Linked DNA regions of Homo sapiens: region 2 is linked to region 1. Evidence: fine-mapped QTL for protein levels in blood plasma. Region 1 holds a variant in brackets. A gene starts in the other region. All regions are shown on their forward strands. Region 1 has its middle 18 kb from the start of APOD. Region 2 holds the start of VSNL1 (visinin like 1).

The links. PIP is the chance, under the fine-mapping model, that this variant and not a neighbour inherited with it causes the effect. The UK Biobank Pharma Proteomics Project read protein levels with antibody pairs (Olink). The fine-mapping took linkage between variants from a reference panel, not from the people measured, so its PIPs are less certain.
Region 2: VSNL1 starts here. The variant in region 1 is fine-mapped to the plasma level of the VSNL1 protein (UK Biobank, PIP above 0.99).

The regions. Positions count from the first base shown.
Region 1 is chr3:195,563,988-195,568,377 of GRCh38, forward strand. No RefSeq gene overlaps it. Among named protein-coding and RNA genes, the nearest start is that of APOD, 18 kb to the right of the region's middle. The variant TGAA/T (reference allele first, on the strand shown) is at 2,380.
Region 2 is chr2:17,538,691-17,543,080 of GRCh38, forward strand. VSNL1 (visinin like 1) reads left to right here and starts at 2,006. Exons shown (of 4, transcript NM_003385.5): 1 at 2,006-2,228. RefSeq lists an enhancer at 311-430.

The sequences.
Region 1 (4,390 bases):
GTAAAATATACATATCCCCAAGGAACCAGATATACATCAAAATAATTAAGTGGGGGCATAGCTTGGGGGTAGAACATTTGACTGCAAAATAACATATACATTGGTAAGGTTTAGAAAGACACAAAACAATCTACAGGGTTGGTCTTATAAATAAGTCTGTGGCTTATTGTCCCTAAAAATGATATAAGACTCCCTCTTTGTCAGCAAAATCTCACCTTATTTGTCATATACAAAACTATAAGACTAAATGTTTGACCTAGAAGAGTTGTTAGAGAGATCTGGTGGAGTGAGTGGCTAATGAGTGGGGTCAGGGCTAGCGCTGGGCCCACTCTCAGTACCTCCCACCACACTGCTCCTTAGCATTATCCAATGATTAGTTCAGATCGCCTTATTCTGCTGGAAGTGTTAGGGAACTCTTGAGTCTATTTGAATGTTGTGTTTACTCGAAACATTGATTGTAGCATGAAAGTTGACCATATTTAACAAATATAAAAAATTGTAGTAGTTTCTCACTACCAAGGTGAAAATGATTGCTTTTGGGGTGGAAACCTGTTATAAAATAAAACAATGTTTAGACAACTACAAAAATAAAAACTTTCAGCCAAGCACAGTGGCTCACATCTGTAATCCCAGCACTTTGGGAGGCTGAGGCAGGTGGGTCACCTGAGGTCAGGAGTTCGAGATCAGCCTGGCCAACATGGTGAAACCCCGTCTCTACTAAAAATACAAAAATTAGCTGGGCATGGTAGCGCACGCCTGTAATCCCAGCTACTCCGGATGCTGAAGCAGGAGAATCGCTTGAACCCGGGAGGCGGAGGTTGCAGTGAGCCGAGATCACGCCGCTGCACTCCAGCCTGGGCTTAACAAGAGTGAAACTCCGTCTCAAAAAAATAAATAAATAAGTGAATAAAATAAATAAAAATAAAAATAAAAACTTTCTAAATTACTTGATATCTTTCTTAATGTCTCCTAGAAAAGTGTATAGAGAACCTTTTTGGTAGTAAATAAAGATCACTTTAATAGAGAAATTTTAAACTACAACACATCCTATATTCACAAACTAGTACATCTCAGCTGTTCCGTGGATGTGGTGGGATAGGATAATAGTCCAGAAAGGTCTCAAAGTCTGAGGTAGTTGCTGGAAGAAGAAGCCTATTTCTTTGGACACCTGACTTACGAGAGGGTCAGGCTGAACTAGAAGGAGGTTTTACGGTCTGAAGTTTTAGGGCCTCCACTGTAAGTAGCAGCCGCAAAACTATAAGAGGGGGAGAAATTACCCATAATTCCACCACGCTAACACATTAATTGCCTTCATTTCCTCTGTTCACTTTTAGTTCTTAATTTTATGCCATCATTTCATGAGGCTATAAATACAGCATAGTTAAAATGCAGCATTCTTTCACTCAACATTATATTGTGAACGCTTTTGTCTGAGGACTATTCTGGTTGCAAGGAAGATTTACTCAGTCAAGTTAAATTGTCTCAGAAAATAGTTGTGTGTACGTGCCTAATCTTAGAGAAACCAAGGACAGGCGCCTAAGCTGGCTAAGCTCCCCAGGAATTGGTGCTAGGGCAGGGAGAGCCAACAGCTACTGAAGCTGCTGTCGGGGGCCTTGGGTGGGCGGGGGGATCTCTGCTTACCCTGCGTTTCTGTTCCGCACACATCACTTCAGTAGTGCATGGCCGGTAGTGGCCACTACAAGCCACATGACCTTGCAGTACCAGAGCTTTCAATGATCCTCTTTCCAGACTGCTTAAAGTCAAACTCTTATTTGATTGTCTCAGTTTATCATTTCCATCCAGCGAGGCCATAGAAGTCAGAGGTTTCTGTTCAGCCTGTGGATTGGCTGTTGCTAGCTCAGGTGGACACATATTGGTCCAATCAGGGGTGGCTGGGGAGGTAGAGCCACATGCTTTAGATTCTAGCTCTGCAGGGCAGTGAGGCCGTGCGCTGGGACCCCCCTACCTCCCCCGGCAGTGAGTGTGGCTTCGTAGTTCTTACAACTACAAATGTTCATGAACACATGACATCACATCAAGTGGCTGTTTCATGATTTATGACCCTTCCTCTGCTGTTAGCTTTAGTTTATCGCCCCTTTCAGCTTGGGGACGGCTACAATAAAACTATGAACATTTTTGGGCATACTTCTTCCTTTTCATCTTCCAGATTATATAAAATAATCTTTAAATTCCATAGATTACATTCTCTGAGCACCTCCAGAACAGAAAACATAACCTTGCAATTTTTTCTTGTTGTCTAAAAAGGGTCTGTATTTGCTAGAGATTTCTACTGAAGTCGCTATGGGCAAAATAATAGGATGTGATACGTGGGATCTGCTTCAAAGCACTTTAGGAAAAAAGTTAGGGGGTGCTGAAAGC[TGAA/T]GCAAGATTGATGAAATCTCTAGCAAATACACTTTTTAAACAACAACAAAAAATTGCAAGGTTATGTTTTCTGTCCTGGAGGTGCTCAGAGAATGTAATCTCTCTGGAATTTAAGATGATTTTATATTTTATATATACTGCTGGAGCTGATGATGGGTGCGTGAGATTTATGATACACTTTGCCTCTGTTTTGTGGTTTATGTCCTACTTCCTTTCTCTTTCTCTCCCCTCTGGATTTTTTTGTTGTTAGTCCCCATGTTTCCTCTAGACATTTGGTACTCACATACTGCCCTGTGATTCCCCCAAATTTTTCTCAGGTTCGGTTACCCCTGACACCTGCCTCATAAATTCCTTTTCCTTCCTTACCAAAAACTCCAGTCCATTTGTCTATCTACCTATTCAGTAATTCATTCACATAAAAAAAAATGAACCTATGTGTTGGTCAAGACATGAAAAATGTTGCAAAATATAGTGACATTCATTGTTTTAGATGTTACTAGACAGCTATGAAGAGGAACGAAATCACAACTTATTTTGTAGCCTGAGATAAAAGCCAGCTCCCCAGAGCAACACTCAGGAATAACTGTCTTTCAGCAGAGGAGCCAAATGCCCTCTGGCGGGGGGCGGTGGGGCCAGTGTGTCAGAGTGTAGGGTGTGGCCGCAGGCAGAGCCCAGGAGAGGCCCTCCTCCCTCCATGCCCACCTCCTCCTCACTGCCTTTTTGCTAACGGCTTTCAGCCTTTTGGGATTTAGAATTGGAAGCTATATTCTGAGGTCGTATTTATTTAGTTAAATGAAAATTGTATATATTAAAATCCTTGGGATTTTTGTAATCATTAAAGCATCAAAGAGACTCGAGTGCTCCAGAAAATGAACATTTCATATTCATGCTAAGAAAGCAAAAATCTAATGAAATGGCTGAATTTTCTATTCATTTCCCAAAACATTAGTAAATTGTCAGTTATGTGAGCTAAGTTAAATTACAGGGCGATCATTCTGAGGTCTTTCTGGTTTTACAAGTCACAATGTTAAAAAACAAACTCAAGGAGGTTTTTTTTGTTTTTGAAATGGAGTCTCGCTCTGTCATCCATGCTGGAGTGCAGTGGCGCAATCTCGGCTCACTGCAACCTCCGCCTCCCGGGTTCAAGCGATTCTCCTGCCTCGGCCTTCTGAGTAGCTGGGACTAAAGGCGCCCGCCACCACACCTGGCTAAGTTTTGTATTTTTAGTTGAGACAGGGTTTCACCATGTTGGGCAGGCTGGTCTTGAACTCCTGACCTCAGGTGATCCACCCGCCTTGGCCTCCCAAAGTGCTGGTATTACAGGCATGAGCCACCGCGCCCGGCCACAAAGACGTTCTTGAGACCTGTTGGTCCTGGGAAATTGGAGTGCTCATAGGTGTAGCTGCACAACCCTACTGCCCACCTGTGTCTGGCAGGGGTTGGGACTTTCCTGGAGCTCCCTGGCACCCTCTGTGTGCCTCTGCCTTTGCATTCTTCACCTTGGATTATAACGGCATCTTTATTTGTTTCTCCCTCACTAGACTGTGAGCTTCTGTGGGAGGACAGGGATTCTGTATTTTTCAATGCCTGGAATGCGATTGGGCTTCCGTAAATATCAGTTGAATGAAAGACAACATATATATATGTATTTTTTTCCTTAAAAGAAACTCCCTATGTTCTTCCTCATAGATTCTCCTCTTCCTTACATAAACCCCTAGATGGGTTCATTCTTCAGCCTGGCTCTGAAGACCCGAGGAGAAAGTAAACACTTCAAAGAAACTGCCCCACAGGGACTCCGAACGCCCAAGTAATTCACCCTGAAAGCAGCATCTACTCCAGAACGGGGGCATCTGGATTCAGGTCACCCAGAATACGCCTTTGCCATCAGCTTCCCCCACTCCAGAAACAGGATTGTTACCTTTAAATGAGGACAATTCAGTGCTTGGTTTTTTTCAACATAACTGCTTAAGGATTTTTTTTTCTGTTTTTCTTTTTAGAGGCAGGGTCT
Region 2 (4,390 bases), not on the chromosome of region 1:
CTTTGGGTTGATGCAGATTACAGTGCGGAGGCTGTTCTCGAGAGAGAAACTAGAACTCAGCGTAAAATGCTGTAGTAGGGGAAATCGACCAAAGACGAGATTTTGAAAGCCTTTTGAAAGTCGTTTTTCTAGCTAAAAAGAAAAAGTGACTTATTCAGGACTGACTCCCCCTGCCAGTCCCAGGAAACAGGAGCAGCCCGGCGCGCCCGGGAGCCCCGCAGCGCAGTGCGCACTGCGGCTCCAGAGCGAAGGGCTGGCGCCCGCCAGATTCTAAACGTGCTCGGCTGCCGCAGCCCGCCGGGGCCGCGCGCCGTGGTCCGCGCGACTCCGCGCTCCGGGTTTCCGCGGTCACCAGCACTGGCGGAAGAGCCCTGCCGAGAGGGGACAGCCGCGGGCGGTGTCCCGGGAGTCCCGAGAGCGCGCTCCCCCTTTGCGCAACCTTCCCGAGGCGTCCTGCCCGGGAAGCCAGTTCCTGGGTTCTGGGCTGGCTAGGTTGGCAGCGAATGAGGCTTAGGCATCACTGCCTGAGGCCCTCACTTAGCATGTCGACAGCCACAGACTTGTCTGGCGGAGTTTCTCCTGGTGCCCACTTAAGTAGTCTCAAGTTTGTTCAAAGCTGGACTCCTCGACTTGGAACCAGGAGCAGCTGGAGATTTGTCAATTTAGAGCTCATTTGCCACGGGAGACGCTCTTGGTGTCCCCAGCACCGAAGGGTAGGTCAACTCTACAGTTTTCCTGAACATGATAAGGTGTGTGAAGACGCTGTGCAAATTGTACAGCGCTCTGCTTAAGGAGAACCTCGATCTTCATCTCGCCCCCAGAACTTCCCTCCCTTGAAAATAAAACTCCCACCTGAATGTAAAGCCCAGGAGGGGGTTTTGTTAACCGCACTTATTCCCAAAGCATAAAGGAATGTCTAATAGTTTTGCAAATGCTTCCATGAATAATTGTTGAATGAGTTCATGTACAACATACACACTTGAGGAAAACTGGTCTGGTTGGGAACATCTGGGAATTCTCCTTGCTTTTCTGGTAGGGAAGCGACCGACCAAACATTTATTGGGCACTACTCCTTGCCAAGCCTTCTAGGCTTTGGCAGGCCAATGGGGAGCCGGGGGGAGGGCTGGCAAACCTGTTAGTTGTTCAAGGACACAAAGGGGGCTTTATAAGATGGCCTAATCAGAGCCCTTAAACGTGGGTTCGCAAAATGGTTCATTCCCGCCCTTTCACCCACCCCCTCCCACCCCAGACGCAAAGCATATGTTAAAAACACTTAAGTGCATACAGAAGGCGCTTGGCTCAGGGTACACAGGGCAAGAAGCCTCGGATCCCAGCTCCCTTTAACACACATTTTTTCAACGCCGTTCTGGACCGAGACTGTCCGGGGCACTGGGTGCTGCAGGACCCGGCTCCCAGTACTCCTAGCAGAAGACCCTCTGATGAAATGGCCCATGACAAAATGACCACCATAACCGTTCCTTCAGTAAGCCAGGTAGACGTGCTCACAGCTTGCTGGGAAGTCTTCTTTCGGAGATTTCTGCAGTTTTCTCCTTCACCTTACAGCCTAACAAAGGGTGGGCCGGGGGTCGGCTAGGACAGAAAGCAGCGGGAAAAGCGGCTCCACGTGTTCCATCTCTGGCCTCGGCCTTCAGCCCCCAGGTTCGGTAACCACTGGGCGTGGCGAGTCCGGGTAACCCGCAGTCCCTCGCGCCCGTCCAGGTGCGGGTTGCTCCGGTAGCCGGACTCCCTTTTCCTATATACTTTCCTTTTGAGCTTTTGCTAAAATCTGGAGACGTGGAATCCACCCGCGGAAACTCCGAGCCCCTCCGACTGAGCATGCGCCATCGCCAGGCGGCTTTTGGTCACAGGCTCCCGAGTTCTCCTAGCTGGGGCTGCGGAGCTGGGGGGAGGGAAGAGAGGAAAGGGGAGGGGGTGCCTGGAGAGGCGGAGGCTCGCGCGCCTGCGCATCCAGCTCCAGGGACCCTAGGTTTTCTATGGGATTCCCAATCTGCAGCAGAGATTTACCCGAGCGTGTTGCGGCAGCGGCTGGGCTTGCAAGGCGCGATCCAAGAGGGATTTAAGCAGCCCAGAGCTCCAGAGAAAAAGAGAGCGAGAGAGAACCACACACAGAGACGGCTTAAGCGTTTACCCGAATTAAATATATATTTTTAAAAAGAACTGTTGAGTTTTATCATTTTCGTTAAGTGACCGTGCGCAGCGCTGTAACTGTAAGTGGAAAATACAATCTTCGTTGCATTTCTGCATGTGTAGTGCAACCAACTGTCAGAGAAATGCTTTGGCTATTGTCACATACTTTGCTTTGCATAGATGCGTCTAAATGCATGGGGACAATTTCCTTGCTTAATGCTGGCGATCTGAATGTGCTCTTAGTCCATGGGGGATCTTTTGGAATATTGGGGGTGGGGGAAGGGGGAGTGTTTATATGCGGCGTGTTTGGGGGATTGTCTTAGACTAGATTTAAGACAGGTGAAACTGAGATGCTTTCTTAGTTTGTCTTAGACAGATTTAAGTAGCTAATTGACCGATTGTGAAGTTTTCCGGTTGCTGATAAAACTATTGAGCGGGTACAGTCGAGTAGCAACCTGTCATCCGTGGGATTGGTGCACCATTTTTCTCACTGTGGAAGGGCAGCAAAGGTGTTTGCTAAGTAAAACTGAGTGGATGAGATTGGTATGGAAATCATGGTTGATCTCTGAGCGGGATGTTAGTGTTTAAGATCCACGGAGTCAGGCGCAAAATGAGCACATTTCTCTCAGTATTCAGAAATGAGTAGATAATTTTTTTCGTCTTTGATTTTTGTCACAATGGTGAATGGGCAGAAAAGGGAAAGATGCTCTACTGCACTGTCGATTTTGAACGGAGTCACAGGCTCGGTCGCTGAATGGGGACTGTCAGACCCAAACTAGTTACCTGCCTTTGCATTCCGTGTTCGCCATCCGGAATCTGGGGTTAAAAAATGTAAATCAAGGTGTGTTACATTTGGTAGTATTTCTTTAAAGGATAAAAGGTCGTTTTGTGTTTTGAGTTAAAATGGGTTGTTCCTTGCCCAGAAACTGGAAGAAGGGTCTTTGCAAGGTCAAACCCCGGGTGGAAATCAGAATGATGAATACCCTCAGGGGTACAAGAATGTGTACGTGGAAGGAGCGAGGAGAGGCTGATGCTCCCTGCATGGTGGAAATGATGAGTGCTCCGCATTGCCTGATCAGTGCCCTGTGAGATGCCAGAGTGGGAATCCATTTTTCTAGAGTTGCCCTCCTGTCCGTATTTTGGAAACTAAAATAAAATAGAATTGTTGGTGGTTGTGGAGAACACTAAGTACATACTATTTGTGTATCACTTTCCAGTTGAAGGCAAGAAAAGCTGGGGAGTTTTATTTCTACATATTAATATTTATTTTAATTTCTAAAGGAATTTCAGGTTGAGACAAATTTAAAATGAAACTCTTGTGAAAACACATTTTACCCCCACTATCATTTAAACTGCCTACGTGTGTTTGTGTGTGTGTGGTGGGGGGGAGTAGGGGGTGATCCTACATCATTGAACAACTTACTTTTGAATGCACTCTCATTAAGCCTTGGGTATTTAATAACCCCAGAAAATGCTGCACTGAAGCAGGTTGGCAGAATGGGCATGAGGCAGAAAGATGAGAAAAAAGCATGGCTAGTGCGTGCTGGATTTCCACGAAATAAGCAAATCCAATTTTGGGGATGAAATGAAATAAATTTTCCCTCAAATCGGGTGTGGGGGCCATCAAATAGGGCTCTTTGGCCCTTTGATCAGTCCAACCATTTGGAACCCCTCAAAGGAATTTATAATTTATTTAAATGGATGAAATTTGTAATTGAAAATTCGAGAAGAACCTCTCATTGGAAATCCACAGTATAAATCATACTGCCTTGTCTATTCCTTCTTTCCTTACTCCAGGGCAGAAGGACTAATCATTTGTCATAATTGAGCCATACTCCCTGTCATCATTGAGCATTGGCATCAGTTCGATGAATGGTGCAGGTGTTGACACTGCATTGATAAAGAGGGGTGGTAGAGGAAAAAGGGGGGAATTAGGTATCAAAACTGATAAATGCTTGGTCTTGGAGTCCCTGGCTCATAGGTTGACAGAGAGGATCAAGTTAGGCAGAGACCCTGTAAGGTATCTAGTCCAAACCCCTTGCTTTGTAGATGAGGAAACTGAGGCCCAGAACCATGGATGTAGAGAAAAGTCAATTAACTTCTAGTCTATGGAATAAACAATTAAAAAGTAATGTTGAGTGGAAATGTTTCCTTCTCTCTTTCATTTTCAGCAGTCTCAGTGACATTGCTGCAGACTTCAAATAAATAACTGTCTGCTCTCCAGCACATCTTTTGAAATTGT